Linked DNA regions of Homo sapiens: all the other regions are linked to region 1. The links come from fine-mapping of genetic effects on gene expression. A gene starts in region 1. Each other region holds a variant in brackets. All regions are shown on one strand. Distances are from middle to middle. Region 1 holds the start of ERN1 (endoplasmic reticulum to nucleus signaling 1). Region 2 overlaps ERN1 (endoplasmic reticulum to nucleus signaling 1). Region 3 overlaps ERN1 (endoplasmic reticulum to nucleus signaling 1).

Region 1 (8,183 bases):
GGAAAAAAAAAACTGCTTCTGGGAAATATTTCCAACCAGTAGTTTATTATTCACAAACTGTGATTCACCAGTCCTATTTTTTAAGCCAGCATCACGCTCTAATCATATTCCTAGGTTACAAGCCCAGTTATTTGTGCATAATAAAAACTGAATCCATTAAGATGATACATTAGGCTTTTCTTCCCTATGTCATCTCTTTAGGGAGACATTTGATTATAAAACCTACAAAATATTGAACCTACATATTACTTTGGATCCCGAAACCAAAGAGGTTTCCTATGAAAATGAAACAGTTATCCAAGGATTCTTTCACCTGAAAAACGGAGTCCAAATCTGGGGCAGGCAAATAATGAAACCCTCAGACCTATGCAAGTGACACTATTCCATCCAGACATGAAGAAACTTTAATGCGGCTCACTAGATTTATGTTCGGAAATATGGGCTATTGTTGAACTCTCTCTCGAATAACTCTCAGATACATTTTTCTCCTGTGCTCTGAGAAGCTACATTACTGCAGAAGGCTGAATAGGCAGGCAAGTTAATGAAACAATACACATGTGCACAACTACAGTTTAATTTCATGATCAGCAGCCCTGATAACAAACTCAATGAACATTCTACTTATGGCCTCAGTATAAACACTTGATATCGCCTATTAGGATAATTAATGCAGGTGATCACTGTCAGAATAAATGATAAGCAAAGACATTGCTAGTTAAGACTCATCTATCAGATTACAGTGTTTCTATACACACATGATCCTCAGTTCTCGGTGACTTTTTAAAAACCTCCCTCTAAAACCAAAATATTGGCTAAATGAAAGAAATCTGATATCTTATAGCTTTTAAAAAAAAAGGTACTTTGCCTCACATTGTACTGATCTCTTTGGTAATTGAGAGATGTGGCACCTAAATAACCATAAAATGAGGACTGCTGACAGTGATGATGTAACCCTAACCAACTCTAGGAGCAAGATATAGGTCTAGGAAGAAAGGAAAAACTCACTGACTAAATAAGCACATTCTGGATTAACAAAAGACAGCCTCAAGTGCTTAATAATACCAATGTTATTGCGTTTTGGATCTGGTAGCCTAAAGTCTCAACTCATAATGAGTCAATGTCTGGCTCAATAAGACACACACTGAAAGAAAATCACAGTATTGCCTCCAATGCAATAGTTACTACATCAATCAAAAAGAAATATCAAAAACTATTTCTTGCAGAGGCATAGTATAACATTCAAAAAATGATGGCTTAGAGTAAAAAGCATCTTTGGAGCATAAAGAGAATTTACATTTATTATCTATTAAGCACGTGTGAAGGTGGTGCCTTCTTTCACATGTTAGCTGTCCCCATTTCACCTATCAGGAAGGAGTCTCTAAGAAGTAAAATCATGGCCGGGTGCGGTGGCTCATGCCTGTAATCCCAGCATTTTGGAAGGCCAAGGTGGGTGGATCACTTGAGGTCAGGAGTTCGAGACCAACCTGGCCAACATGGTGAAACCACGTCTCTACTAAAAATACAAAAATTAGCCGGGTGTAGTGGTGGGCTCCTGTAATCCCAGCTACTCGGGAGGCTGAGGCAGGAGAATCGCTTGAACCCGGGAGGCGGAGGTTGCAGTGAGCTGAGACCACACCATTGCACTCCAGCCTGGGCAACAAGAGCGAAGAAACTCCATATCAAAAAAAAAAAAAAAAAGAAGTAGTAGTAGTAGTAGTAAAAGAATATGCCTAGGGCACAGCTAGCAAGTGACCAGTTAGAACTCAGGTTTGTCTGATTTTATACCCACTGCGTTCTGCACATCACTGTTGCCTGGTTTAACTGCAAACTTTGCTATGAGTTTCATTTACAATTTTAAAATAATAATTCTTACTATGTTTGGGGGTAAAAACCCTTGGGAGAAAATTCTAGGAGTGAAATTCTGACCTTTCTTTTTTTTTTTTGAGACAGAGTCTTGCTCTGTCACCCAGGCTGGAGCACAGTGACTCCATCTCTGCAACCTCTGCCTCCCAGGTTCGGGTGATTCTCCTGCCTCAGCCTCCCCAGTAGCTGGGATTACAGGCCTGCGCTACCACGCCCGGCTAATTTTTTTTTTTTTTTTTTTTTGTATGTTTAGTAGAGACAAGGTTTCACCATGTTGGCCAGGCTGGTCTCAAACTCCTGACCTCAAGTGATCCACCCACCTCAGCCTCCCAAAGTGCTGGGATTACAGGCATGAGCCACCGGGCCCGGCCTGACCTTTCACCTAAATATAGTTACGCTAAACTATAACCTTTTGATAAGGGTCTGGAATATTTTATCATGAACTCTGAGAAGTTTGGATTTCTAAATACAAATTGGAAATATTTACACGAACTGAAACTATAGTTCCAACTACAGCTAAATCGTTATTTTTGGCTCTTTAGCCTAAGTTATTCAATAACCAAACACTAGAATCCAGTGACAAAGTAGCAAAAGGAAAGATGTGGCAAAGGAAACCATTATACACCTATCCCTTGACGTTATGAAATGATCGAATTCATGTCAAACATTTGGTCATTCTGCTTATACCTTCGTTTGTGAACAGATGCCAGGCAGTAGTTACCAATCCAAGGTGAGGTGCTCAAGTTCAAAACCTGACCTTAGTTGTAAAAGTGGGGTTTTTATTTGAAAGAAAAACTTAACTTCCACAAGTTCTATTATAAAGAGTCTACAAATTTTCCTTTATTTAAAAAAAAAAACCCTGAATTTGAAAAAGGCAACCTTATTTATTTACTTCTCCTGTTTCCAAATTCTTGTTACTCCAAGAGTACAGACAGTTATTTACCTAAAATGCAAAACCTCCAAAGAGTTCACACGGTGGCTGGCACTCAGGCACACACATGTCAGTGCTCTACTGGGACACCTGGTACATGATATCCCTATTAAAGAGTACACAGTACCTTTAAAGAGGTCATTAAACAGAACACGGACAAATTTGCCACGCTCACATCCTGAACAATACATTTTGTGAAAAACATTCGCTAATTTAGGTTCTTCCAACCAGAAGAAAAAAAAAAGCCAAGTCTCCCACAAAGTGCCCCCAAATCCACAGCTGAGTGAAGGTCATAAAGAGTTAAATGAATGTAAACCAGGCCCTATCATTCGTCTCCTCCAGAAAAAGATGAAAAGACATTTCTGATGGCCCCAGGTGCTCTCCCACGAGGAGACAGTCTTTCATTTGAGGTTCTGAAGCGGCCTCACCTCGAACCCATGCGGGATCTTCCAAGAGTGCAATTCCCACAGCTCCACTTGCTCAAGGAAGTCTCGGTGCACAGAAGGAAGCCTGCAGCCTCCCAGTACCAAGAAACCGGCAGGGCAAGTGGCAGAAGCCAGCTCTCGGGTGAGAGTCCTTACTCCCTGTTGCATTCGTTCCCCAAAGTTTTCGAATTTTTAAAAAGTTCAAACAAGGATTCGAAGCGCAGGACAGACCCTTCCCCTGGATCCCAACGCCCTTTCGGCTCCTCCGCGGCCCCCGCCAGGCAGCGCCGGCGCCCGCCCGCGAGGAGGAGGGTCCCGCAGGTGGGCGGCCTCCTCAGGCCGGGGCCTTCTGGGACCCCCAAGTGCCGTGCAGGACGCCACGAAGTTGCGCCCGAGCCCGCGGGGTCCGGGGAGCCGCTGCCCGTGACAGCCGCGCTGGCTTGGGAGGCTCTTCGGGCGGCCGACGCCTCGGTGGGGCCGCGACTCCCGTCAGGGAAGCTCTCCCGGCCCGGTGCCGCCTCCTACGCCCGGCCCGAGCCTCCCACGGCTGGGCTCACGGGGCATCTGGCCGCCGCCGTCGCGCTCCCAGCTCGGACTCCAGCCCCGGCGCCGCGACGCTGCCCCGGCCCCGACCCGGCCGTCGCGAGCTGTCCTCCACCCCACGCTCCCCGGTCACTCACCCCGAGGCCGGGCAGCAGCAGCGTCAGCAGCAGCAGCAGCCGCCGGGCCGGCATGGCGAGGACTCGGCCCTGGCTCCGGGGGCGGTACGGACAGAGGACGGGGCGGGGGCGCCGCGACGACAGCGAGGCGGTGACCGAGCCTCAGCGGACGCAGAACTGACTAGGCAGCGGCGGCACCCCCATTCCCGGCCCTATAAGCGCTGGGTGCCGCGGCTTCTTCCGGTCGGGGCGGAGTTGCGGGCGGGGACGGGGCGGGGCCAATCTAGGGGCGTGTTCGGGGCGGAGATGGGGGCGGGCCGAGGGCGTGCCCCGGGCGGGGATGTGGGAGGGGCTGGCTCGGGGCGGGGCCGAAGGCGGTGCTGGCATCTGGCTGGCTTCGCTCATGAGGCGTCGGCGGCTGTAAAGGACCAGGCCTCGGCATCCAGCGTCTGGGGGCGCTGGGGGATCGAGGCGCGAAGCTTGTCTGTGGCTGGGAAAGACCGGCAATGCCCCACCAGGCCGTCCCATTAACCCTGCCGAGGGACCTGCCGCGTCAGACTTCATCGGGGAAAAGGGCGGGACACGGGCGGTCCCGGGTGCCTAGAAGCCTCCTTTTCGTCTTTCCGCCGTGGTGGAATCATCCGCAAGGTTTACCGAGGCGACCTCCGGAGCGAAGGTTTCAGCAGCTACCGGAGGCTTCCAGCAAACACGGCGCAGCTGCCCCGCGCGGCAGTCGCAGTGTTCACAGCCCTAGGGTTCTCCAGCTGTGCCTCGTCTTCTCTGGGGCCCCTTTCTTCCTTTTCCTTGCCCTCAGGAATTCCCCTCAAGTCATATCCACCAGCCATCACTTCCGCTTGGAATGAACCACGGCCAAGTCACTCACCAAAAATTATAAGGAGGAAACCATTTCGGCCACTTGTGTCACGTGCGTTGATGTGACACGTGTGGATGTGAAGTTTGAGATGGTCTGCGTCACAACTCGTTGGAGGGAGTGGGTGGGTTGAGGCCTCCTGCAAGGTCTATGTGAGGGTGTGGAGTACTAATTAGAGTTAAAGAGCTCGGCAGCTGTTTGGTCACTGGCACTGGCCTCCACTGAGAGGGACATGGGTAGGGAGGACACGTCTTTTGCAAGGAAAGACAGTAAACTGAGATTTGGAGCCCAGGGAAAGGTATCTAACTTATCCTAGGAGAAAAAGAAAACGGCTATGAAATTCTCTAATTTTTCCTGACTTGCTTATATGAGAGCCTAAGATTTTTCAGGTTTGAAGGAAAAGAATAAGCACTCCTAGACAAAACAACAAAGTAGTAGTGGGGGACTGGCCAAATGTCCAGTCTGTGTGCATTGTGGTCAATCTTATCCAACTAAAACAGACCAAAATGACAGTAAGCCCAAATCCTGCAAATAGAGCTCCCCATTCCTAACCCCCTAGGCCTGGATTACAGTGAAGGGACTAAGTCCTACCGCATGCTGGAGACTCCAACACATCTCTGTAAGAGTGGGAAGAATCTTGGCAACTGTGAAAACAGTAGAGACATTTTGAAAAGTGTTACCTGAATGTCTAAATGCAAACAGAGGTTTGGGATTGGCAGAGAGATGTACTGAGAGGCCCAGCACTCCTGAGCAGTATAGCCGGGCTTCCAGGGAGGCCTACAGCCCTGAAACTGGGAGGAGCTCTTTATTTCTTGACCTTTTATCTTTTCTTTTTAGAGATGAGGTCTCACGGTGTTGCCCAGGCTGCTCTCAAACTCCTGGGCTCAAGAGATCCTCCCCAGTAGCTGGGACTTCAGGTGTGCCCCACGACACCTGGCTTGGGAGGACCTCTTTAGTGATTACCTGTCCAGTTTGCCAGCTGACAACAGCATCTGTTAGACCCTGTATACTTGACTTAAAAGAGAAGCTTGACTGAAAAATGTCACTTTCACATCCCCCCCTCTGGTGCTTTTTCTCAAACAGAGTAAGTCTAGGAGGGGAAAATTTGCTGTACTGGAACTCTGGCAGCCCTTTTACAATTCAAAATGTCACTGTGACCCTGTAACATCAGCAGATGAAACACAAAGGGGAATGCTGACCTCAATTTCACTCATAAATCAGTTTTAAAGATCGTAGAAAGAAAAAAAATCTGTTCCAAGAAGCCTGGACAGTTAGGTATTATTTATCTTACACTCAGTTGGACCAAATCCCCAGGGCTTAATTGCACTGTTACATGTTCTCTGAATTTCTTTCTTTTTTTTTTTTTTTTGAGACAGAGTTTCACTCTTTTGCCCAGGCTAGAGTGCAGTGGCACGATCGTGGCTCACTGCAACCTCTGCCTTTTCGGTTTCAAGCGATTCTCCTGCCTGAGACTCCCGAGTAGCTGGGATTACAGGTGCCTGCCACCACGCCTGGCTAATTTTTGTATTTTTATAGAGACGGGGTTTCACCATGTTGGCCAGGCTGGTCTCGAACTCCTGACCTCGTGATCTGCCCACCTCCGCCTCCTAAAGTGCTGGGATTACAGGCGTGAGCCACTGTGCCCGGCCCCATTCTCTGAATTTCTTATGCATCGTCCACATGCTTCATGCACTTCTTCACTTGATTGGCAATCCAGACAGATAAGCACTGGTTTTATTTATGGTGGCATTGCCCATAATCTTGCTCTACAGTCAAGTACTTCTTTAGGCAGCTTTTTGCTTATGATAAAGTAAAAGCTGATAGCACTGATAAACACAAACAGAAATGGAATATTTTGTAGGGTGCCTTTGAAGTGGACCTGACCATATAAAAGACCTGCAAATGGGCAGTAAATGACCTTTCTGCAAGTCACATTAAATAACATCCACTGAATAAAGCAAAGGTCATGGTCTTAGTGTAAAGATAAGGCCTCTTTTCCACCAGTGTAAGAAACATATATACATCAGATTCAACAAAGAAGTACAGCAGGATCTGACTATGGGGAGGTGGGAGAAAATCTTATTTTCACTTCCCTTTAAACCACTGGTTCCCAAACTTGGAGAGCTAAAAAAACAAAACAAAACAACAACAACAAAAAACAGATTTCCAGGCCAGGCATGGTGGCTCACGCCTGTAATCCCAGCACTTTGGGAGGCCGAAGCAGGAGGATTGCTTGAGATCAAGACCAGCCTAGGGAACATGGTGAGACCCTGTTTCTGTAAAAAAAAAAAAACAAAAAACCAAAAAATTAGTCAGGCATAGTGGTTCACACCTGTAGTTCCAGTGACTTGGGAAGCTGAGGTGGGAGGATGGCTTGAGCCCAGGAGGTCAAGGCTGCAGTGAGCTTTGATCGTGCCATGGCACTCCAGCCTGGACGACAGAGCAAGACCCTGTCTCAAAAAAATAGAAATAAAAAGCTGGGCATGGTGGCTCACACCTGTAATCCCAGCACTTTGGGAGGACGAGGCAGGTGGATCACGAGGTCAGGAGTTCAAGACCAACCAGCCTGAGCAACATGGTGAAACCCTGTCTCTACTAAAAAAACAAAAATTAGCCGGGCGTGGTGGTGTGCGCCTGTAGTCCCAGCTACTTGGGAGGCTGAGGGAGAAAAATCTCTTGAACCCGGGAGGCAGAGGTTGCAGTGAGCCAAGACTGCGCCACTGCACTCCAGTCTGGGCGACAGAGTGAGACTCCATCTCAAAAAACAAACAAAAAAAAAGAAATTAAAAACATATTTCCAATAACTTCTTGTACCCCTTTCCCTGACTGATTCACAATGTCCAGGGGCAGAGCCCAGAGACCTGTGCGTTTTGCAGTTTCCACCGTACACTGAAGGCAGTCAAGATCCAGGGCTCCAGCTCAATCATGATGTCCAGCCTTCATCCCTGCAACCATGAATCCCTTTTAGTTTAGCAAATATCGCCCTCTAGTGTAATAAATTATGACCCAAAAAAGGAGCTTGTGCCTGTCTCATTTGTGTTTAAAACCCTTCAAAATCTCATTTAAAAATGCTTGTGAGGTTGATTTGCAGATAGCTAGTGACAGGATAGATACCTTTGAAGGCGGAGACTTGAAAGAAAAATCTAGTAAAACCAGAAAGAAAGGTCATGGTTGAAAACTCCAGTAACATTTCAAAGGAATAGTATCTTTATCAGAATAAATCAAGTCAGTTTTTTTGTTGTTGTTGTTTTTAGTGATATCGCTGCTGCTGCTTCTTGAACTGAACCTACAGAGTGTGTGGAAGTAGTTATGGGATAAATATTAATACAACCATAAAGGGGCAAGGCGCTGTGACTTACACCTGTAATCCCGCACTTTGGGAGGCTGAGGTGGCGGGTATCTTCAGCCTAAGAGTTTGAAACCAGTCTGGGCAA
Region 2 (8,175 bases), 78 kb before region 1:
ACTACGGTGCCTCCCTACGCTGGGCCATGAGCTGTTAAAGTGCGGCTGTGACTAAATATGGATTGACGTGGAGAGAGATTCAAGGTGACGCTGAAAAACGTGCATGCTGCAAAACAGTATGCAGGATTTAACTGTATTTTTATAAAATATGCAATCACGTCTAGATAAATGACTGGAATAACGTATATGCAAAGGTATCAATAGCCATCATTCATCCCTGTATAATGGGAATATATGGGCCTTTATGCTAATCTGTGTTTTCTATAATAAGAAAAATTAAGCATAAACAAAACAATAATTTAGTTGTAATTTTTTCAAAAGGCAGCACTGGAGTGTCATGGGCCAATTACCACCCAGGAAAACCTGAAGTCTGGAAGAAAGACTTGTTGCACCCATACCAGGAGACCAGGAGGGTGAGGATAAAGCTTGTCTGTCCCCAGCCCAGCACAGACTGCACCTACTGACCACTCGCCATCCCAAGAGAGAAGACAATTTGTCTTCCCAAATGCCAGTGCAGGAAGGGACCTCTGATTATTCAACCCTCATGTCACCAGGTAGAAAAAGAAGGTCTCCAAAGGGGGCTTTGCCTAGGTCACACAAGTAGTTGGTGACCTGGAGGAACCTTGGAGCATCTCAGCTTTAGAAGGTGGCGCCCCAGAGATAACCCTACCAACCCTCTACCAGATTTGGCACAAGTCTGGAGGTCCTGAGGCCTGCGGGGTGAGCAGCTGGGGCACCACGGCCTCTGTGAGTGCAAAGGTGGCACCAGCCCAGCTCTGCAGGGCCACCTGAGGCAGCTGAGGAGCTGCTCCCAACCCCAACCCCTGGACCGCTCACCGTGCTTCTCTGGGTGCAAGCAGTCAAGGCTGCAGGCACCCAGGAGGATGTTGGCCTGCCGCTGCAGGGACTTGCCAAAAGGGTGGCTGCCCTCAGAGATTACGTAGTAAAAGACGCAGCCTGCAGAAAAGATGTCCACCGTGTAGGTCTGAAAAGAGACATGAGGCGTGAGAGGTCTGGGAGCAGAGTTTTCATCCTCACTCACAGTCAGGGAGGGAGGAGCATTGCTGCTGCTTCTGCCACCTAGAAGGTGTCCTGGGAGAATCAGCTGACATATGTGAGCTGCACAGAGCAGCGAGGGCTAACCTGCAGCACTGCATGGGTGTCAGAGGTCCCAGTGGAGAACCTGGGCTTGGAGCCACCTGGAAGCCCCTGGTTCCCTCTCATGTGAGATGAGGACACTGACAGCATGGGGCTGTTGTCAAAAGAGATGCATTAATATGCAAAAATGGTTGCTTACGACAGTGCTTGGCCCATCAAAAGCCCTCCTGGCTGTTATATATTCCTTACCCCCAACACGAAAGTGCTCACAGACAGGGTCTCTGTGTCGTTGCTTCCCTGCTGTACCCCCAGGGCCCAGAATGGTGCCTGCACACAGTAGGTATCAAAATTGCTAATAAGTGAATAAAACAGCTTATGATTCAAAAACAGCCCTAGAAAGAAACTATCTGACAAGTTACCAAGGAGGTCATGTTTGATGTTAATCCGAGAAAGCCTCTCACTTATCCCATGAAACCATTCTGTGTCTACAGAATAGCTTCCTTCGAGGGAAATGTACGTTTGTGTTTTTTAGCTCATGCTACCTGGGGTGTAATACCAAGGTGGTTCCTGAGCACAGCTTGGGTCCCTGTTAGTAGGCCCTGCCTCTGAGATTCTCCACCAGGTGAAGTGAGGGTCTAGTGTGAGGAAGCAGGGGCTCATCACCTCCCATGCTGGAGGAGACACACCTTGAACAACACAGCACTCTCATTCAGCCTCACAACAACCTTGTGAGGCGAGCAGAGCAAATGCTTTCATCCCCAGATGAGAACGTGGACAGAAAGGTTGCATGACAAGCTCAGGGTCACTGCTGGATGTGATAAACCAGGATGGGACTCAGGTCTTCCAATCTCCAAACCTACCATGCTTTATTCTACCTCACTGGATTTTCCCTTAGGAAGGTGCTGGATTCGGGACAGGAGGAACATGGCCACCACAGCTGGAGCTCGCCCCTGACTCCCAGAGCTCTCTGGGTCTTTCACGCCCCCCACACTCTCTGCAGCCTGCTGTCCCCAGCACAGACAACACTAAGGTGAAGAGGCATCTTTCCTACCTGCCTGGCCCCAATTATGTTCTTTCCCAAACTTATTATTGCCACTTGTCCTTGTAATTTGGATATTCCATAAGCTGTTAAACATGAGTGCCACGAAGTCTGAGGTAAGCTGAATCTTTAGAAAGACTCGATAAAGGAAAGGGAATGGTTACAAGAGCTGCTGCGGCATTTGGTGTGGTGGATTCAACCGTAAGGGACTGGGTCATGAAGCGTTAAAAACCAGGCTTCTGCTCTCAAATCGCTTAGGAAGTGTTTGAAGTGTCCAAGCCTCCATGCAGAAGTCACAGAAGTGGTACAGAAGTGTGCTTAATGCAAGGGGGAAAATGAGGACTCCAGTCAGTCAGACCCAAATCTGAAAAGACCTTAGCCTACAGCACAAGATTTCTATGACTTAAGGGCTAATATTACTTGCTTTAAGTTAAAATTAAGTGTTACGGCGTGCGTGCGTGTTTTTATGATTCTTCGCTGTAACTGACTTCTTTGATGATCTGACCAGCTGCTGGTCCCCAGTGAGCTGGATAAGAGGCAGCCATATCTAATCCACTCAAGATGACTGACCCACCCAGGTCTCCATCGGGGAGTGTCCAAGGTGAGCCTCGGCGACTTGTGCTAGAATAAGGTGCTCAAGTGTGAGTGCGCTCCCAGCAAATGGATGCAGAAGCCAGCTTGAAGGGGTTTCCAGGTTGGCCAAATTTGGAACAATTTGTGTATCAAAAGAAGTAAATAACAAAAAAAGGACTAAAATGGATTATAACATTAGTTTCAAAATCCTTGAGCCCATAGCGATTAAGAAAAAAAAAAAAGAGAGAGAGAAGAAAGTGAAAAGAAAGCTCTGCTTTACAGAAAAATGTCAGCTAACAATGTAGAAGAATTTCTACTCAACTGAGTACTTCAGGCAAGGGTGATCAACACATGCTAAACCACTGGGTGAGTGACTGTCAGTAAACAGGATATTCACATTGTGCTGAAGTATCACCCCAAATACTAACAAGAGAGGAGGAAATGAACCCTTATGGTAGAGAGATCAGCTGTAGCATCACTAAGAGGAGGTGATAATAATCTTACAGATACA[A/G]TCTGCCATCACATGCTTTCTGATGTAGAGACCTGCCAAAAACATTCGTGCCAAAAACATTTAACTTGAACCTAATCAAGCCTCTCCACCTAACTTCTGGTTTCCAGGAAATACAAGGAATACAGAGAAATGTTCAACGCTGTCATGAGGAAAAAAGCAAACAAACCAGAATGGGGCATCCTATAACCCACTGCCTGGACTCTTCAAAATGGAACTTCAACATGGAACAAAATATAGGTGGAAAGATTTGTAAATTCCAAGAGACAGAATCAAATGTAACGCAAGACACCTGATTCCATCCTGGTATATAAAACCCAGTAGGTATCAAAACCCAGTAGGTAGCAAAATACCAACTCTATAAAAGACATTTGGGGACTAATTGGGGAAATTTGAATATGGATTGAATATGAGATGATGGATAGAAACAGTATTAACTGTTGAGGTGGGATAATGGTATTGTGGTTGGAAACACAATGTATTCCTTAGGAGACACGTGCTGAGGTCTTCAGGGATGAAGGGCCAGGATGCCTGCTACTTATATTCAAATGGTTCAGTAATAGGTAAAGATAAAGCAAATGTGGCAAAAGTATTAACAAATGTTGAATCTAGGTGGAGATACACAGGTATTCATGTTAACATTCTTTCAGCCAGATGCTGTGGCTCATGTCTGCAATCCCAGCACTTTGGGAGGCTAAGCCTGAGCCCAGGAGTTCAAGACCAGCCTGGGCAAAATAGCGAGATCGCACTTCTAAAAAATTTTTTTCTTTTAATTTTCTCTATGTCTAAAAATTATCAAAATAAGTTGAGAAAACAAAAACAAAATTTTAAAAATAATGAAAACTTGAAGTTTGCTCACGCTAAGCAAGCCCTGACTTCCCAGTTTACCAAAATTAAAAAGGGGTTAAAAAGTGATTGATTTAGCTGGGTGTGGTGGCAGGTACCTGTAATCCTAGCTACTCAGGAGGCTGAAGCAGGAGAATCGCTTGAACCTGGGAGGTGGAGATTGCAGTGAGCTGAGATCATGCCACTACACTCCAGCCTGGGTGACAGTAAGACTCTGTCACACAAAAAAAACAAAAAAACAGCCAACCAACCAAACAAAAAAAAAAAACAAGTGATTGGAAGAATAGGGAAAAAAAATAGATAATTGCCCACATTTGCCCCTTTAATCAGCTGAACATGAGATGACACAGAATGTTCACACAGAAGCTCTTGGTGAAAGGAATGCCATTCTCCAGCTACACGGGCACCAGCCCCCAAACCTGGAATTTAAAGGTTCTACTCCTGAAGATACAATGGGCTGGTTCTGTAGTTTTCAAAGGGCCATAGCCTATTACTCACAGGGTTCTCCTTACAGTCTTCGCTCAGCATCTCTGGAGCGATCCAGCCTTCTGTGCCAGGCACCCCAGATCGGCGGCTGAAACTGTGTCTGCCCACTGCCAGCTTCTTGCAGAGGCCAAAGTCGGAGATCATGGCCTTGATCTTGCCGTGTGCATTGGGCATGGATATGAGGATGTTGTGTGGCTTTAGGTCTCTGTGAACTAACAGAGAACTCCAGATTAGTCCAATGCTTACCAGGAGCAACCCCAGGCCTCCTCCAATGGGGAATGTGTCCTCGTCAGACTCCCAATATGCCTGCCGCCACCTCCAAATGTTCTGATTTTCAACTATGTCGGATTCCTCCTCAAATTCTTACACCACTCATCTTTGCTACTGGTGATATAGCCAAGAGCTTGAACAGAAGCAAGGCCCACCCGAGCTACTGGTTAGCCCCACCTGGGCCACTGATTCTCCCCACCCGGGCCGCTGGCCTGGTAAAGTGCAGCCTCTCACCGATGTTGAGGGAGTGGAGGTGGGCCAGGCCCGAGGTGGTCTGCTGCAGCAAGGTGATGGGCTCCAGGCCGAGATGCGCAAAGTCCTTCTGCTCCACATACTGCAAAAGACATGACAGCAAGGTCACGGCACACAGTCCTCAGGACTTGGCCCCTCGGCTCACTTTCTTTGATACCATTTTAAGAAAGAAATGGCAAGTTTTACTGACAACATTCTGTCTAAATCCATGTTTTCCAGCAAGGAGCAAACCTCCAAATCTACTAATTTACAATGAGAAAGATAAGAAGGCAAGAAACTCAAGTTCATTGCCTCATATAAGTAAACCTACAAAGGAATCCAAATGATACTGATATGGTTTCAAAGTGAGCCTGGAAAATGAGCAAAAGGAGCTTGCTGGATGATCTTAAAGCCTGGAGTTACCAACTGGCATCCTCCAAGCCCACACCAGCCATGACTGAAGAGGGAAAGAACAACTGTCCAGGTTTCCTGGAGGCAAAGAGGGAGAGACATGCCAACTGCAAGCAGACTGCCCAGGCATGCTGGGGGGACCACCCTGTTACAACCAGAGGGATAAAAATGCTCCACATTTTGACTGTGTATGTGGTTAAATGGGTATAGACATTTGTCAAAATTCATCAAGCTATTACATTTAAAATTAGTACAATTCACTGTAACTTTTTTTTAATTTGACGGGGTCTCACTCTGTTGTCCAGGCTGGAGTGCAGTGGCACAATCACTGCTTACTGCAGCCTTGATCTCCCAGGCTCAAGCAATCTTCCCACCTCAGCCTCCCAAGTAGCTGGGGCTACAGGAACACATCGCTAGGCCTGGCTAATTTTTGGTTTCTTTGTAGAGATGGGGTTTCACCATGTTGTCCAGGCTGGTCTCAAACTCCTGAGCTCACGTGATCTGCTCACTTTGGCCTCCCAAAGTGCTATGACTTTAATAAAGTTAACAAAATAAAAAAAATAAATCCACCTCTTGCAGGGTGGCTGCACACAGCTCGATGGCAATGTACTGGAATTGCCGGTCCTTCTCCGTGCAGAAGTAGCGGATCACGTTCGGGTGCTCATCCGATTCTCGCAACAGCTGGACCTCACGGTCTGCGAAGCTAAAACACTCGGGGAGGATCCTCTTCACGGCCACGTCGCGGTTGTCAAACATGCCCCTGCGGGATGAGGAGTGGGAGTTGTGTCTGGGAAGCACGAGTCAGGCTGTGTAAATGAGGTGAGAACCTGGGTCCACAGCATTCACCTACTGCCTCCCAGCCTAGAGAGCCCCGCCTGACTGCCTGGTGGCCCCGGAATCATCGCTTGTCTCAGTGTGCAAGCTCCCTGGAGGCCGGACTCCATGCGTCTAGGTCACTGCTTTGACCCTGCTGTGCTCTGAGCCTGGCACCAGGCTCGCAACCTGACAGGCACTTAGACACCAGGCGGTGAGGGCAGGGGGCTGGCTAATCCACTCACCGGTACACAATTGTGCCCTCAGCTCCATGGCCCAGGACATCCTTGGGACAGAAGGAAATTTTCCCAACTATCACCACGCTGGTTTCCTCATCTGGGACAAAATAGGAAAAAGAGATTGTTTCAAACAGATATCACCTAAAGAACCTTGAGGTTAACATAGTGACAAGCTTCCTGACCTCAGATTAAAAGATGGGATTTAAGAGGCACTGCACCCCAGACTGCTGCTCAGCAAGAGCCTGCCAGGCCCACTCCCCATGTACACCCAGGACTGCCTCTTCCCCCTGCCCCTGCATTCTGTCTCCGCCTTTACCTTATTGTGCGATTGCATATCTTAAAACCTTCTGGAAGGCAGGGATTCTCCATAGCGTTTCACACACTTATACATATTCATTGTGATATAGTTAGAATGGTTTAATAGTTAACAACCACCACAAAGTCCACTGTAAAGATCCGCACTGAAGCATTCAGGTGGCGGCAATGGACATGTAAAACGAGGAGACTCCTTGGGACAGAGGGCTCTGAGTTCCCTGCACCAGCTCTGTGCCAGTTCCCTCAGAATTGGGGCTCTGACAACTGGCTTGAGCCAACTTCCACAGAGGAAAGCAGACCAACTGTGACACTTCCACACTTGGCCACCGGCTGGCCCTGGGAACTCTCTTCAGCCCAATGGGCAGCTCACCTCTGGTCAGCCGCGACGCCCAGCCCTTGTGGAGAAAGACAGGAGGATGGCCAGGGTGGTTCCCAGAAGGCCCTCTGAAGGGGAGATGCCAAGGGATGGGGCAGAAGCCTTCCCACAGAGACCCCCAGAGTGGAAGTTAGAGGAGAACACAGTGAACCCCTGAGAATGGTAGTTTACAATCTTATGGAGACTCCTTGGACTTCTCAGGAGGTGCTCGAATAAAACATAAAATAGCACCAAGATGGCAACTGGCTTTACCTCCATCGTCTTGTTCCAGGGAGGGGCTGCTGCCAGCCTTGGAGGCAGAGCTGCCGGAGCAGAGCGAGTGGTTGGAGGCCCTGGGGGACGTGCTGGGGCTGCTGGTGCCCGAGCTCTCTGAGTACGGGCCAGACGTGTCCAGGAGCTCGCCGTCCTGAGCCGTGTCTCCAGGTGGGTGGAAGGGCAGCTGCTGCTGCTGCTGCTGCAGGAGCTGGATCTTCTCCAGTTCCTTCTGGAACTGCTGGTGCTGGAGCTGCTGCTGCTGATGCATGCTCTGGGAAGAGAAACCCACATCCAGACAAGGGCAGCTGTTCCCACAGGGAAACAAGCAGCTGGGAAGGGACAGGTCCCAGTGGCGGAGGGAGCATGTGTACTTTATGTGACCCAACAGGGCACAAAGAGACCAGTGAGAAGGCACCTGGAAGCAGAATTGCTTCGATGACTGGACGTCTTTCCACCGACTAGTTAGATCCTTGCTCATACAGCCCACTCCCCAACCCTAGGAGGGGCTGGATGGCCACCAGGGGAGGGACTGTGCCCTAGGTTGAGGGCTGTGCCAGTTTCATTCAGTTCTAAAATTCTGTGATTTTCATGAAAGTCTGAGAGTTGTTGCAAAGGTGAAACCAAACAGGAAGCACAGGTAGCATGGCTGAGCCAGTGGTGGGTGAGAGCAAGCCCCAGGTTCGCCACCCACCGTGTCTGTGTGTTGGCTAGAGGC
Region 3 (8,183 bases), 58 kb before region 1:
GAGAGCACTTACTGTAGTCCACGTCGTCCTCAGGCAGTGAGGCCGCATAGTCAAAGTAGGTGGCATTCCACCGGAGCTCTCGGGTTTTGGTGTCGTACATGGTGATGGTGTATTCTAAAGAACACAGACCAGCCAGCCCATTACCACGGAGGGGCCATAGTACCTACTGAGGTGTGGTCCTTATCTAATTATAACAAACAAATCCTCCCTAAACTGTAGGCCAAAAAGTCCAGACTATCCATGTCGATAGAGAAAGGCAATGTGAGGAGAACTGAAGGCCCAGACACATGAGTGAAACTGGCTGACAGCATGTGGAAGCAGAGACGACCCACCCTCGCTATGCCCTTGGACTCATGGCTCACAGAAGTGTAAGCAATAGAATGTTGTTGTTAGCCATTAAGCTTCGGGGTGCCTTATTACATAGCAATGGATTGCTGACAATTAAAAATTGGCACCTTGAAGCAGGATGGCGCCATAACAAACACCTAAAACATGTGGCATTGACTTTAGGACCAGCTGGCAGGTGGAGGCTGGGAGGCTGATAAAAAGGTTGGTGGAGACTTGCTAGTGCAGAGGGGGCACTGCTATTGAAAATGGAAAAGGGGTGACCCAGCTTGTGGAGGGTGCCATGATGAGCATGACTATTGCTTGCAGTAACTTGGAAGACAGAAAAAGTACCTAATCAACTCAGGGATCCAACTAAGGAGATTTCCAGACAGAAGGCAGAAAATGTTGAATGGTTTCTCTTAGCTGTCTATGATATATTGTGAGACAAATGAGCTGAGGAAGAAATCATTCAGCAGAATACAGAGGAACTATAAAGGGTCCAGGACTGAATATCGCTGGAAAAGATTCTCAATATAAAAAATAACTTTAGGGAAAAGATCAAATCCAGGGTACTGCCAGCAACAAAAAATGGGCTCAGGGTAAAGATCAACCAAATCAAAGTTGAAGCTGTAAGATCCTTCTTTGAGACCTCTGAAAGATTTTAAGGTGGTCCCTCATAGACCCTCTGCCCCCATCAAGGGAGTTCTAAAAACCATGTGTTGTCCCATTGCACTCACATTCCAAAGTCTAGAAACTTGTGGGTATGGCTTTTATCTAATGGAATAAATTATAATTTGACACATGGGAAGCCCACATAGTTTTTAAAGGAGTGGTATCAGCATAGACTAAAAGGAACAGAGACAGTCAAATTGAAAAAAAAGGGCTTCTAGATCCCCAAATTTCAATGGACAAGGAACGGACTGAGAAAGATACAAAACTGGCCATTTGTTATGGAAAAGAAAGGACTTCTCAGAGGGCAGAACCAAGAGCCACTGAGAGCACTATATTAGGGAACCAATCCCAGAGGGCAAAACTGGGCCCTAATGAAGGAATATTCCCTACCCCTGGAGGAGGGGAACCTGAAAACATGTGCCTGGCTGGATTTCAGAATTACTAAGGCCCAATGTGTGATATGTGTCTCTCTTTCCTGCCCTTTTTTGAGTGAACATGTTTACTGCAGCTATCCTGTCTCTGTCTCACCACTGCATGTTGGGTGGGGGATGGGAAGGGGAGAAAGACCCTGTCTCTTTAATTCACAGGTCTCCGATCAAGAGGTGCCACACTTGAGGAGCATCATCTACCTCCAGACCTCATGCAGATAATGAGAGGTGAGATTTTGGGACTGATGCTGGGATTGGACTTTGGGGGTCTTTGGAGGGAGTGGGAGGGTTGTAAACTACTGCAGCCTGAGGGAGGACTGCAGTAGAACATCTCTAAAGGTCACTACCACCAATTCTTCCCATTCCTGTAATGCATGTTACTCTTCCCATCAAGAAGCCGAGTCTATATCTCTACCCTTGATTCTCAGCTGGCCTTGAGACTTGCTTTGACCAACAGACTGCAGTGGAAGGAAGGTTCTGGAACTTTTGAGCCCAGACCTTAGGAGGCACTGTAACACCCATTTTTACTCAAGAGGGAGCCCGCTGCCATATCAAGAGTCCAGGCTATCTGTATGGAGAAAGGTCACACGGAACTGAACTGAAGTCTCAGATACATGAGTGAGGCCAACCAAGCATGTGGAATAAAGATGATGGGTTCTTGTTGAGTCCTTCCTGAATTCCCTACAGAATCATTAACAATAAAATGCTAAGTTGGGGTGGTTTGTCATGCAGCAATAGATAATGGAGGCAATGGATTTACACACCTATGCACACACATTCCACCTCATGCATATCCCAGCTCCTTCGAACACCACAATTTCACCTGAGAATGACGCAATTTTTATATCTGGATGAAGCTGGGGCCACTGTAAGAATTTACTTAATGGAAAAGGTAAACACATAAATCCTAAGCAGTCACTACAGTCAGAAGCTGGAATACATGATTTCTACAGTCTAAGACCTTCCACCCATTTCCAGGAGAGCCCGGCCAGCTTCTGCAGGGCCCAAGATTAGTCTCACTGAGTTTTAGAAATGCAGTGCTTTCCCCAACACTTTCAGGACGGTTCTCTTTTTTCAAATCCTTGGCTGCCTGAAAGTTTAGACCTAAATGTAGTGCTCAATTGTAATGAATTCATCCTAGGTTTTTGGTATAATTTCTTCCTTCTAAATGTTTTTTGTTTCTCCTTTTAGCTTTAAGTATCGTTCAACAATTTTCATGGCATCCCCGACATGTGTGAGGTGCTGCACATATGGTAATAAGTAAGGCAGGTCTCTGCAATAATGGGACCCACCCATTCATACATTCAAACATTGAGCCCCTGCTACACATCAGGCAATATGCCTGATGTAGAGAGACAGCAGCTGAGCAAAACAAAGTCGTACCCTCAGGGAACTGATATTCTAGTGAGGGAGGCAGGAAGTAGGCACATTGAATTTATAAATATGCAGTGCCAAGTGTTAAGAAGAAAGAGGCTGAAAAGGGAGGAAACACAAAATGGTGCGGTGAAGAGGGTGCAAGCCATGCCTGTCAAGGGACAATGACGAGGGGTGAGATGGCTGCCACTACAGGCCTGTTAACTGCTACGTGTGCCCCTAGAATGGGAGAGCCGGGTGTTCCTGAGCAGGGTGCAGGCTGTGAGGCTGCAGAAGAGGCTTCACAGAGAAGGTGACTTTTGAGTACAGTTGTGAGAGAGGATATTTGCCAGATAGGCAAAAACAGGCATACCTGGTGGAGAGGACCACACCACTACAAGTCTTTAAAAACAACACTGCTATTCTGGGAGCTGCAGGTAGTTCATCCTAATTGGGAAACTTTTTTTTTTTTGGGCAGGGGGGATGGAGTTTTACTCTTGTTGCCCAGGCTGGAGTGCAGTGGCTTGATCTTGGCTCACTGCAACCTCCACCTCCCCAGTTCAGGCAATTCTCCTGCCTCAGCCTCCTGAGTAGCTGGGATTACAGGCACATGCCACCACACCTGACTAATTTTGTATTTTTTTAGTACAGATGGGGT[T/C]TCGCCATGTTGGTCAGGCTGGTCTCGAACTCCTGACCTCAGGTGATCCACCTGCCTCGGCCTCCCAAAGTACTGGAATTACAGGCGTGAGCCACCACGCCCGGCCAGGCAACTTTGAAATGAGAGAAATGAGGCGAGAAAGGTGGCAGCGGCGTCACAGGGGTTTTTCTGGGCCGTGGTGCAGTTTGGACTGTATCCCTTGCACACTGGGGGGACACTGAAGGGTCTTATAAAGGAAAATGACATGATGGGACCTGTGTTTGGAAAAAAGCAGCTCTGGCCACCTTCTAGGGAAGGAGGCTGGGGAGCTTCTTCCGATCTTCTGGAAACAGGCAGGTTGTAGAAGACAAAGGTTCATTTCTTACCTGTTCGCCCAAGATACAGAAGAGAGGTTGATGGGCAGAGACTATCTGCAAAGGCCGATGACAAAGTCTGCTGCTTCTCTCCGGTCAGGAGGTCAATAACATACCAGATGTCCTGCTTTTTACCTGAAAGGACACAAAAACACATCGTCGTTTACACCATATGGAAAAAAGTATCGCTGCCAAACTAGCAGCCAAGATGCTCTGTATTGAGAGAGATAGACCTGAATTTCTTAGGATGTCATTTCTAAGGTGATGATATAAATGGTAATGCAGAGATAATAAAACTTCTTAGGTCCATAGGTCTTATAATAATTTAATAACCTAAACATGGTATACAAATTCCTCCAAACCCAATAACATAATTATAGTTTCAAAAAGTTCCCCAAACTTTCAAGTTAGATTTTATTGCTTTGATGAGTGGCTTTAAATATGAAAAGTCTTGCCTGTGAAGGGCAATCCTTTTCCCGTGGACTGGGATCTATAGAAATACAGAAATGTGCCCAGGGGTTCATCTCCCTAATAACCATCATTCACATTTCTCAACCTCCCTAATAACCAGCCACCATGTGAGAAGGATCCACAGTTACTGTTTATGACTATAATTAACTAGTACCTGGGACTGGTCAGTGGAGTTGGTTGCAACCTGATGCTAAGGATGTCAAAGTTGTCTCGGCCTCTGTTCCCAGCCAGTAAGTAATTCCCTGGCCTCGGGCCATACCCCCTAATCTTGGTCAGCTGATTATGACAGGCAGACAGCACAGTAAATAACACTATATATTAAGAAAACCCAAAGCATATGTATCAATGGTATATACCCAACAGCATCCTAGGAATGGAGAGTCTGTAGCAAGGGCCTCCAATGTGAAGGTCAACACAGTCACTGTGATGCGTGTATTTCCATTTTGTAAAGCATGATCTCTGGTGGTCATTTTTATCTTCCTAACTTATTGGAAAAGTCTCCTGTTTTGGAGACTCTTAGAAGAAGAATATTGAGATGCTGGAGAAGGTCACAGAGCCTTTGAAATTTTTTTTTTTTTTTTTTTGAGACAGAGTCTTGCTCTGTCGCCCAAGGAGGAGTACAGAGGTGTGGTCACGGCTCACTGCAGCCTCAAACTCCTGGACTCAAGTCATCCTTTTGCCTCAGCCTCCCCATAGTTGAGACTACAGGCATGTGCCACTATGCCTGGCTCTTTTTTTATTTTTTTTGGGATGGAGTCTCGCTCTGCCGCCCAGGCTGGAGTGCAGTGGAGTGATCTCGGCTCACTGCAACCTCCACCTCCCAGGTTCAAGCGATTCTCCTGCCTCAGCCTCCTGAGTAGCTGGGACTACAGGTGCGTGCCACCACACCCAGCAAATTTTTTTTTTTTTTTTTTTTTAGTAGAGACAGGGTTTCACCGTGTTAGTCAGGATGGTCTCCATCTCCTGACTTCGTGATCCACCCAACTCGGCCTCCCAAAGTGCTGGGATTACAGGTGTGAGCCACCATGCCCGGCCACCTGGCTAATTTTTATTTATTTTTTATTTTTTTTGAGACGGAGTCTCGCTCTGTCGCCCAGGCTGGAGTGCAGTGGTGCAATCTCAGCTCACTGCAACCTCCGCCTCCAGGGTTCAAGCGATACTGCTGCCTCAGCCTCCTGAGTAGCTGGGACTACAAGCATGTGCTACCACGCTTGGCTTATTTTTCGTATTTTTAGTAGAGATGGGGTTTCACTGTGTTAGCCAGGATGGTCTCGATCTCCTGACCTCGTGATCTGCCCGCCTCAGCCTCCCAAAGTGTTGGGATTACAGGCGTGAGCCACTGCACCTGGCCTACACCTGGCTGATTTTTTAAAAATGTTTCTTCTGTAGAGACGGGGTCTCACTATGTTGACCAGGCTAGTTTCAAACTCCTGGCCTCAAGCAAACCTCCTGCCTCACCCTCCCAAGGTACTGGGATTACAGTTGTGAGCCACTGCACCTGGCCTGTAATTTGCTAATGCTATACCTCTAAAGTTCTAACAGATGTTGCATACATGCCTGCTCCACATGTGTGCAACTTACCCATGGATCGCAACTCTGTTCTCACTGACAAAATCATAATATGAATATGATCTGAAGGTAGAGGAGAACAGAGCTAGGACCACGAACCTTTTCCATCTAGCATGACATAGCTGGTTACTTCAAGAACCACTAGAGTTTACATAACTCAGTTATTACTTTAATGGGTAGATTGGGCAACTACCATGCTCTTAAATATGTTTAATGAACTCGCCTAAGAGGCCACAGCACAAAGATGATAAGAAGACAATATCCTAAGCAGACTATAAGTGATGAATTGCTGGCAAAAGCTGGAAGACCAGATAGGACACAGTGACATGGATGGTCAGAAGATTATCAGATGTTCCCAGGTCACGGCCCACAGAGAGAAAAATCTGTGCCGATCGTTTCCTCCAAATTCCTAGGCTGGGAGTTCCTCATTCTGAAGGTGTGGAAGGAAGCAAGAGTCTCAGTGTCCTGAGCAAAACCTTAAAAGTCTGGCCTGCACTTGAGACCCAGAAATACACATAAAGCTCCTCGAGGCATGAATAGGCAATAAGCACTTTCAGTTCCTCAAAAAGAAAGCTGCTGTATAAATACGGGCTATTATTGCTACTATGATTTCAAGATAAATACAGCTCTCCTTTGTGTTGCAAATGCTTTTTTATTGACATTTTGGCAGCAACATAGTAAAAGAAAAGCAGGTGATCTGATGCTTTGAAAGCTGTGACCCCATAGGTATGAAGGCAGTTTATCTAGGCAAGCTATTAAGTGCTGTTCTATCAAACATTCTGATAGCAGGAAATACTAAGAAAGCGCTATAATTAACAGGCAGAGCCTGGCTTTCCTTCCTTGGCTTAGATGATTGTACTCACTTTAAATTTCATCCATTTGCCACTGGGTATGTTGCAATCTTGGAATCTCAGGACTAAGTCAACACAGCAACTAAAAGCTTGTTAAATGAGTAACCATATTAATGATGTCAATTCTTCTCCCAAGTTGGGGGAGCCCTTTCTTAATTGGTCAGCTGATCCTGGGGAGAACAGCACCTGAAGCACAACCCAGGAAAGAAAGGGTTGGCAAGGCGGTGACTGCGCCCTCTCTCTCCGCATGCCACTTTCCCAGATTCCGGGACTTACATCAAAGAGACACAAGTTTCTGGAGACAGGAACTCTTACCCATGTAGAGGATTCCATCTGAACTTCGGCATGGGGATGCCTGCACCAATTCTGGGATGGTAAAAGGAAGTTTCTTTAAAAAAAAAAAAAAAGAAAAAAAAAAGTTAACCAAGTCTTGTGCAATTATTACAATTTTACCAGGCAGTTTGTTTCTATTACCTAATTCTGCTAAAAAGAGAGAAGCACTTTGCAGATGAGAGTTTTCCTAACTGAATACAAAGGAGAAGGGGGCACCCTATGCTTCCACATCTACTGTGTTTTTATTTTCATTTTTTTGAGACAGGGTCTCATTCTGTCGCCCAGGCTGGAGTGCAGTGGCACCATCTTGGCTCACTGCAACCTCTGCCTCCTGGGTTCAAGTGATTCTCTCACCTCAGCCTCCCAAGTAGCTGGGATTACAGGCATGTTGCCACTACACCCAGCTAATTTTCCACATCTATTTTGACAAGCTCCCAGGTCCCTGAGCTCTGTAAACATCCACTCCTTTACTTGACACCATGTGCAGAGGCCCCTCAAGGTCTCCTGTCCAGGGTGCTTCCCAGGGGTGACACAAACCTTTTCTGAAAAGATTTACACAAATATGGAGAGTTATATATTCTTTGAAATGCTAAGAAAGAATTGTCCTGGCTTGGAATACAGAGCCAGAGCTGGCTAGACTGAGTAAAATGACAGTGCTTTGTAGAGCCCCATGGGAGGGAGCCAGGACATTGATGCTGAAGGGATGCAACCTTGGTGCCAAGCTCAAGCTTCGAGGGAAAGGAGAAGTCGCCATTACAGGGGCAACACAAGAGTTTGAGGTGGAAAAGAGTTTTGATGTTTTCTTCAGTAAATAATTCACTATTGAAAAACAAGAAAAATTGAGACTTTTGGTTTTAAAGAGGAAGTTAAGATAGGTGCCAGGAAAAGAAACTCAAAGGAATCCAAATGTTTCAACTGCATTTCATCATAAAACTGATTCTTCTGAGTCTACAGCTGACATCTGACGAGCTCTTTTGGTTAATGCTTGTTTCAGTATACTTTATTTTTAGAACATTCTGTGTTTTTGAAATTGTTCTATAGATACCTGCTTTTATAGAAATGCCTCTACTGCATGGTCACCTTTTTCTCCAAGAAAGAAAAGATTTCTCTCTAGCTTTAATAAGCAGAGCTTTGCATACTAAATAACTTGGATTTTCCCATCATCCCA

The links. PIP is the estimated chance that this variant, and not a neighbour inherited with it, causes the effect.
Region 2: its variant is the best candidate, but not a certain one, in a credible set for the expression of ERN1 in blood mononuclear cells (TOPMed, PIP 0.53).
Region 3: its variant is the best candidate, but not a certain one, in a credible set for the expression of ERN1 in whole blood (TOPMed, PIP 0.83).

Annotation. Positions count from the first base shown.
Region 1 is chr17:64,126,077-64,134,259 of GRCh38, forward strand. It overlaps ERN1 (endoplasmic reticulum to nucleus signaling 1), which reads right to left and starts at 4,068. Exons shown (of 22, transcript NM_001433.5): 1 at 3,900-4,068. The coding sequence starts at 3,953. RefSeq lists silencers at 3,579-4,028, 4,119-4,248 and enhancers at 4,669-4,868, 4,919-4,968, 5,873-5,932, 7,528-7,577.
Region 2 is chr17:64,048,218-64,056,392 of GRCh38, forward strand. It overlaps ERN1 (endoplasmic reticulum to nucleus signaling 1), which reads right to left. Exons shown (of 22, transcript NM_001433.5): 13 at 7,458-7,731; 14 at 6,521-6,611; 15 at 6,033-6,222; 16 at 5,055-5,154; 17 at 4,563-4,762; 18 at 838-985. Among named protein-coding and RNA genes, the nearest start is that of ICAM2, 32 kb to the left of the region's middle. RefSeq lists enhancers at 7,040-7,783, 7,784-8,175. The variant A/G (reference allele first, on the strand shown) is at 3,222.
Region 3 is chr17:64,068,178-64,076,360 of GRCh38, forward strand. It overlaps ERN1 (endoplasmic reticulum to nucleus signaling 1), which reads right to left. Exons shown (of 22, transcript NM_001433.5): 5 at 6,998-7,070; 6 at 3,804-3,926; 7 at 13-114. Among named protein-coding and RNA genes, the nearest start is that of ICAM2, 52 kb to the left of the region's middle. RefSeq lists silencers at 6,229-6,288, 6,772-7,066 and an enhancer at 6,509-6,588. The variant T/C (reference allele first, on the strand shown) is at 3,439.